2 separate regions of the Homo sapiens genome follow, and region 1 is reported to be linked to region 2. The links are microRNA targets in miRTarBase. Many come from high-throughput screens and were not tested one by one. Region 2 holds a microRNA gene; the other region holds the end of a gene's coding sequence.
What was found. Region 2 holds the annotated microRNA hsa-miR-7158-3p (CUGAACUAGAGAUUGGGCCCA, at 1,559-1,579, shown strand). A microRNA usually pairs through its seed, bases 2 to 8, with sites in the 3' UTR of a target mRNA and lowers its output. Matches are read on the target gene's strand: a 7mer-m8 pairs with bases 2 to 8, a 7mer-A1 pairs with bases 2 to 7 and ends in A, and an 8mer does both.

Region 1 (3,347 bases), not on the chromosome of region 2:
GCCGGGCATGGTGGTGGGCACCTGTAGTCCCAGCTACTCGGGAGGCTAAGGCAGGAGAATGGCGTGAACCCATGAGGTCCGTCTCAAAAAAAAAAATGTATCTAGGCTGTAATTCTATTTCAGTTTGTGTATAATTCTGTTTGTGTATGTCTTTTTCTCTCTTAGGGATGTATTCTTGGCCTGGGTAGCCTCTAGAAATTCAAACACAGTGGTGTTTGTGAAATAGTCCTTCCTGTTCTCCAAGCCAGTGAAGAGTTATCTGCTGGGAAAGTGTCCAAGAGCCTGTTTTTGAAACACAAGCTGGGCTTCTGGTAGTGCCTCATCACAACCCATGATGGCTGTTCATGTTTCACCCCTTTTCTTCCTTCAGCAGAGGCCAGGCTATGGAGCAGGGCCACTGAATTTGCTGTAATCTGGAGATGCTTTTTACTTTCAACCATAAGCGGTAATAGCAGAGGAAAGGGTGAAGGGAGTCTGGGCAAGCAAAGCATAGAGATGGTGGGGTGGTGGTGGGGTTGAAGAAACTTGTTGGTATAATTGTCATAGGACTTGCCTAAAATATTATTAAAATTACGGGAGTGTACTCAGCTTTGAGCCTAGGAGAAAATGCCACTGTGTGCATCCATTTTAAAGGGTTCCCTCATAAAAAAATGTTATTCCCCATTATCACATCAGTACACTGCTTTGAAAACAAAACTTTTCAACATGGGCATACTGGGCTACATGGAAAATGACATCACCCAGGAGTGATTTCTCTTTATATATATTATTTCTGCAGTTACCATCCTTATCTGAGTTATCACAGTTCATGAATCTAAGAGGCGGAACTCTACATCATTAGTAAGAGGTTCCACCAAAGTCTAAAGTTGTATTCACTTGTGTTTGATGAACTATCTTTAAAAGACCATAGGTCTATCATTATTTCTTAGACATAATCTAAAGAAAAACAGACTAGAGAAGCCACCTGGTTGTAACAGAATAAGCAGAAGTTTACAGCATGATAGTCCAAGTGGTGATAACTTTAAATAAAACTCAAATTTTTACTGTTTGTAGACAGGAATGCTGTCCTAGAGAACCTCCTCCTCAACCAGCTACGTACATAGTTTTATCCTATGCATTCCTGTTTTCTGTGTGTTTTTTGTTTTTTTTTTTTTTTTTTTTTTTTGAGACAGAGTCTCGCTCTGTCACCCAGGCTGGAGTGCAGTGGTGCGACCTCAGCTCACTGAAACCTCTGCCTCCCGGGTTCAAGCGATTCTCCTGCATCAGCCTCCCGAGTAGCTAGGATTACAGGCGCCCGCCACTACGCCCAGCTAATTTGTGGTATTTTTAGTAGAGACAGGGTTTCACCATGTTGGCCAGGCTGGTCTCGAACTCCTGACCTCATGATCCGCCCGCCTTGACCTCCCAAAGTGCTGGGATTACAGGCATGAGCCACCGCACCCAGCCTGCATTCCTGTTTTTTTAATGGTTTTGGAGGGTAGCAGTAGAGATGGGGTCTCACTATGTTGCCCAGTCTAGTCTTGAACTCCTGGGCTACAGTTACCCTCCTACCTCGGCTTCCCAAAGTGCTCGGATTACAGGTGTGAGCCACTGTGCCTAGCCTATAATGATCATTTTAATGTTTCCCATGCACTCATTTAGTTTGAACCTTCACAGCAACCCAATGAGGTAATACTCCCATTTCACATATAATACTGAGAGATGAGTTGCACAAGATTATACACTGTTAAGTAGCAGAGCCAGAATGGACTTCAGAATCCCAACTACAATACAAATGTTTATTTAAATAAAGAAGAAAGCTATTGTACAAATATCACTCTTCAGGTTTAGCTTACAGAGCCATGGCTATGGATTCTTAGCTCTGTAAGGAAGTGCTTCTATAAATTCTTAGGTTTAGAGATGATACCATCTGGGTACCTTTGCTTGAACCGTGCAACCACATCTGGGTCTAGTAGGTGGATCCCATCCAGTTGGTTTCCAAGGGTGATCCTGAAACAGTGTAAAAGGAGGGGCAAACCAGAAATCCTGGAATTAGAGGGTTTAATATTGTTAAAAAATGCATACCAAATGAAGACTGCCTATCATCATATCAAATATGCCAATTCTAAAAAGAGCTTAACATTAGAATAGTATATGGTAGAATTACTAGTTCAGAATTGGCATAGATTCTGGTGTTAAAATAGACTGGATCTGTATTATCTGAGGGTTAGTAACTAATGCTTAGCCAGGCCTGCTTCACAGAGTTGCTACCAGGGAGTATTCTTTGGATAAGCAAAATGCTAGCAGCATGTGTTTTAAGCTCTGTTAAGGGGTGAAAGATGTAATTATTGACAGATTAAATAGATAACTTCGTAACCACCAGGGGGCAGATTCAATACATCACAGAATGGCTGAGGAAGATCCTTGGGTTGTGAAGAGAGTAGAAACCCTAGGGAGCAGTGCTTTTGGGTCCTAGAACCTGTTGAGTTTCTAATGAATATTTGTAGAATCTCATAAAACAGTTTAAATACAAGCTTAAGTGGCTTATGAATCCTGTGAAGCTCATTTATGGACTAGTGTAAAACAATGTGAAGCTCTACTAAGTTCTGTCCTTAATCATAAATAATAGCCCCTTGAGGACTAGCCTGTTCTCTGGTCACCTTACCAGTTGGGTTGCACATTGTGTGGTCGTCCAAATAACTCAATCTTGCGAGTGCCAGGAGATAGTCTTTCAATCATGCCATAGATTTCATCTGGTTTATGACTGGTGGAACGAACCTAGGAAATAAAAACTAGCTGCTTTTTAAGTTACACAAGATTGCAATTCTAGCCCTTTCTATTATGTTTATGATCTAAATGAGAAAAATCTGGGATGAGAATACACCCAACATGAATAACTGATACCAACAAAAATGTGGAAGCTTTGGAGGCCTGGGAAGCACATACCTCAGCTACGATCACATCACAATCCAGACCCTGGTTGAAGCCTTGGGGATTTCCTTTGACACCAACCTGCTCACCACAGATAACAGATTACCTTATGAAACCACACCTTTGAACTTTTTCTCAGTAAGAAATCAAATGATTCTTCTTTGTGCTCCACCTATTGAATTGGGCCCCACTGCTGCTCACCAAGCAGTGTTCCTTCCCATGGTTCAACCAGTGACCTGTACGGCCTGTCCGAATGATGCGTTGCAGTTGATTTGTCTTCACCCAAATAATTTCATCTACCCGTTCATACCTGTGGGGCATAAAAAAGAACTAGAATTTTAGCCAAACTTTTACAGTTTAGGGGTAGTACCATTTATAGAAGCAAGGAATCACAGAATAGTCTGGGAGAAGAGAACATGTATCTCACTGTAACAGTA
Region 2 (3,413 bases):
TTTTATTAATGTTATTTTTATAGCAATGCTAATATTATGAGCTAAAAGTTTCTGAGCATCTGCTGGGTGCCAAAAATTCTTATAAATGCTTTACATGCATTAGCTCCTAACAACACTTTGAAGTAATTCTTATTGTCCTTACTTGACATATACAGGAATAAAAACCTGACCATTAGACCGAGCGTGGTGGCTCACGCCTGTAATCCCAACACTTTGGGAGGCCGAGGCAGGCGGATCACCTGAGGTCAGGAGTTTGAGACCAGCCTGGCCACCATGGTGAGACCCCGTCTCTACTAAAAACACACAAAAAATTAGCCGGGCGTGGTGGTGGGTACTTGTAATCTCAGCTACCCGGGAGGCTAATGCAGGAGAATCGCTTGAACCCAGGAGGCGGAGGTTGCAGTGAGCCAAGATTGCGCCATTGCACTCCAGCCTGGGCAACAAGAGCAAAACTCTTTCAAATAAACAAACAAAACCTAAGCATTTGAGGGGTTTGGCCTGGGCAGTGGAGCTTGTGAGCTATATGAGCTGGAATCTGAGTCAAGGCTGGGCTGGTGAAAGGAGTTCACTCAAGTTCCCAAGGTATTCTGTCCTCCAGGACTCTGAATCACCTGGGAGGAGAAGGAATTGTGGCGGGCCTAACACCTTTTCTTTCCCAAACACCAAGAGCAGGTTCTTTCTGTTACATCCATTGAGGTCACATTCTTGAAGTGCATTTTGAGGAAGTCATTATTTTCGCTACAGCAGGGACTGATGTATCAGTCTATTAGAATTCAGAAAAAAGTAAGCAAACAAAAAACGTGTTGGAATTATTCTCTTCTAGCATTTTGAAATGTACAATGGTTAATGTTAACTATAGCCACCATGATGTATTGAAGACCAGGTCTTATTCTTTTTATCTAACTGTACATTTGTACCCATTAACCTAATGCTCATAGCATCAAGAAAAGATCAATATTTAAGGTGACAAATATCCCAATTATGCTGATTTGATTATATGAATGTGTTGAATTATCATATGTACTCCCAAAATATGCACATCTAAGATGTATCAATAAAAATAAAGACAAAAATTAAAGCTTTTACAGTAGAAAAAAGGTTTTAGAGAAATTATGATTACTTGATTCACCTAAACTGACAGTCTTGCTTGGAATGAATTACTGCTTTTTGTAACATAGTTTTAGAAGAGAGATTCACATTTAATGTTACTTTGTGCTAAGCACTGTAATCCATGCCTGGGTGCTCACAGCGCTCCTCTGGGACCAGGCATCACCATCTCCTCTGTAAAAGGAAGGTCAGCCTGTTGCCAAGACCACAGGATAAACGGCTTGGCTGATTTAGGAAACCCAGTTGGTCTTATGACAAAACATGCGCATTTGCCCTTCACCAGGTGATTTTTCTGTAGGGTTATCTTCAACAGTCCGACAAAGCTGTGTTCCACCAGCTCAGGCAGGCTGTGACCAGGATCACCAGCCATGTGGCATCAGGAAGAAGGGGCTGTGTGGCCAGGCTCAATCTCTGGTCCTGCAGCCTTCTGCCTTTGGCTTTCTGAAGCGAGCTGAACTAGAGATTGGGCCCAGCTCGGCAGCGCAGTTTCAGGAGAGCCAGGATACAAACCATCCCAGTCTCTGTTCCCACAAAGGAGAAGCTAAACCATTTTTTATTTGCCCATTCTAAGTGCTAAGTGATATGCAACTGCTTCACATAAGCCTTCCAGCCTTCCAGCCGACTCTGCTTTCAGGAGATATCCTTATGTCCCTTTTGCATGGCTTAGGAGAGTGAAGCACGTGAGAATTGAACGAGGGGTCAAGGGTCACATAACACATGAGCACGAAACCGGGACTCTCCTGGGGTATCAGACCCCAAAGCCAGTGGTCTGCGCTTGATCTTTGCTAACGTCCGAGAAGCAATAAGTCCAGGGCTCTTGACACATTATTGTGCATTTTACTTTGGGAGGGACTGTGGGTCCACTCTGCTTTTAACAGGAGGAAATTAAATATTTACATTTGATTCCAGTTTGGCCCCATGACTGTCCGGCTTCTTTCCTGTCAAAGGCCCAAATTCCCTGTTTTAAAGTAGAGGGTGAATTTGTGTAATGAGGATGGATCGGGCACGTGTAGAACACACTCTTTCACCTGCAGATTCACACTCCAAACACAAAGAAATACTGGATCATATATGGTATATTTTAAAAGATGCCATAGGCATACTTAAAAAGCACAACAGAATTCTATTTTCTCACGTCAGAGGGCAGAGTCTTATGAGCTATTGAGAGGAAAACTGTATCTTAGGGGTTGAGAGCCTAACGTCTGCTTGGGGGTGTTTGTGGCCCTGGCAGCTGTTGTGTGCAGTGCACATTAGAACTGAGCAGCTTTATAAAGCCAGGAACAAGGGTAGAGTCCCTGTGTCTCTGAATAGAAATTAGCGATGCTTAGCCTTCTGTACCAAGGAATGCATCACAAAAGCTAATGCTGGGACTGGGCCTGGTGTGGGATAGGAGTCACACAGAGGAGTCAGAACGCCAACTGTGGCTGGTGTAAGGGGCCTCCATTCACACTGTCTTTGCTGTTTGGAAAATCTGAGCAAGAATTTAAGGTAAAAGCTGATGTGGAACAGCTTGCAACCCAAAAGTCTCAAGCCCAGCATAAAAATCATTGCTCCAGTGAAGATGCCTGCAGAGCTCAAGGCATTTCTGAGACTCCATGGGAGAATGATTCCTAAGGAAGGTGTGCCCCCAGCACCTGTGGAGACTCATCACCTTGAGGGCAAACAGACTCTGTAAAAGGAGAATTCACCTCTAAGGAGCTGCAGACAATAGAGGGATTAAAATGGGCCTTTGATCATTCAAAAAGCATTTTAAAGGAAAAAATAAAGTAACATAATCCAAATTCCAACAGGAGACTTGAAAAAGAAGGTAATAACAAAATGGAAAATAAAGTCACTGAAATAAAGCAAGTGAGTTGGACTATGAATGTCTCCTGTCCATTAGCTGTGTCCCCGGCTGCAAGGTCCATGGGGACTGTGCCTCCCTTGACCTTGAATCTCAATGCCTTAGCAAAGTGCCTGGTTCTGGGTAGGTTCACAGTACACATGTACCTCCCAAATGGATGGATTGCCAACTTAAATGTTCATAGGAAGGTGCTATTTTCAGGCACTTCAGGTGTGGACATCGGTGTTGTCAGATCTTTTCTGTTCTAGCCAGGCATTGTGGACATCACCTTACTATGTGAGGGAACAAGCTGCATTGGTGGAGAGGAAACCAGCAGGAGCACAATAGTGACCCATTTCTCTTGTCTTATGCACTGCAGTGGAAATAGCCCAGTGTGCATGGTGGATTTTATTATGGTGCCAGTAGAAAGATAGGGGGTTTCCTCTATGAGCTGGCTGACTTACATGAGCTCATTCTCTGCAGC

Region 1: miRTarBase lists TOX4 as a target of hsa-miR-7158-3p. Seed matches in the 3' UTR shown: 7mer-m8 at 2,147-2,153.

The regions. Positions count from the first base shown.
Region 1 is chr14:21,496,381-21,499,727 of GRCh38, forward strand. TOX4 (TOX high mobility group box family member 4) reads left to right here. Exons shown (of 9, transcript NM_014828.4): 9 at 166-2,790. The coding sequence ends at 226. It overlaps METTL3 (methyltransferase 3, N6-adenosine-methyltransferase complex catalytic subunit), which reads right to left. Exons shown (of 11, transcript NM_019852.5): 8 at 3,112-3,220; 9 at 2,926-2,991; 10 at 2,645-2,757; 11 at 1,758-1,989. The coding sequence ends at 1,878. Among named protein-coding and RNA genes, the nearest start is that of METTL3, 13 kb to the right of the region's middle. RefSeq lists enhancers at 2,292-2,381, 2,412-2,461.
Region 2 is chr2:5,973,154-5,976,566 of GRCh38, forward strand. It overlaps MIR7158 (microRNA 7158), which reads left to right and starts at 1,509; the gene lies at 1,509-1,579. It overlaps SILC1 (sciatic injury induced lincRNA upregulator of SOX11), which reads left to right. Exons shown (of 2, transcript NR_026832.1): 2 at 1-3,413. RefSeq lists enhancers at 1,076-1,577, 2,457-3,110.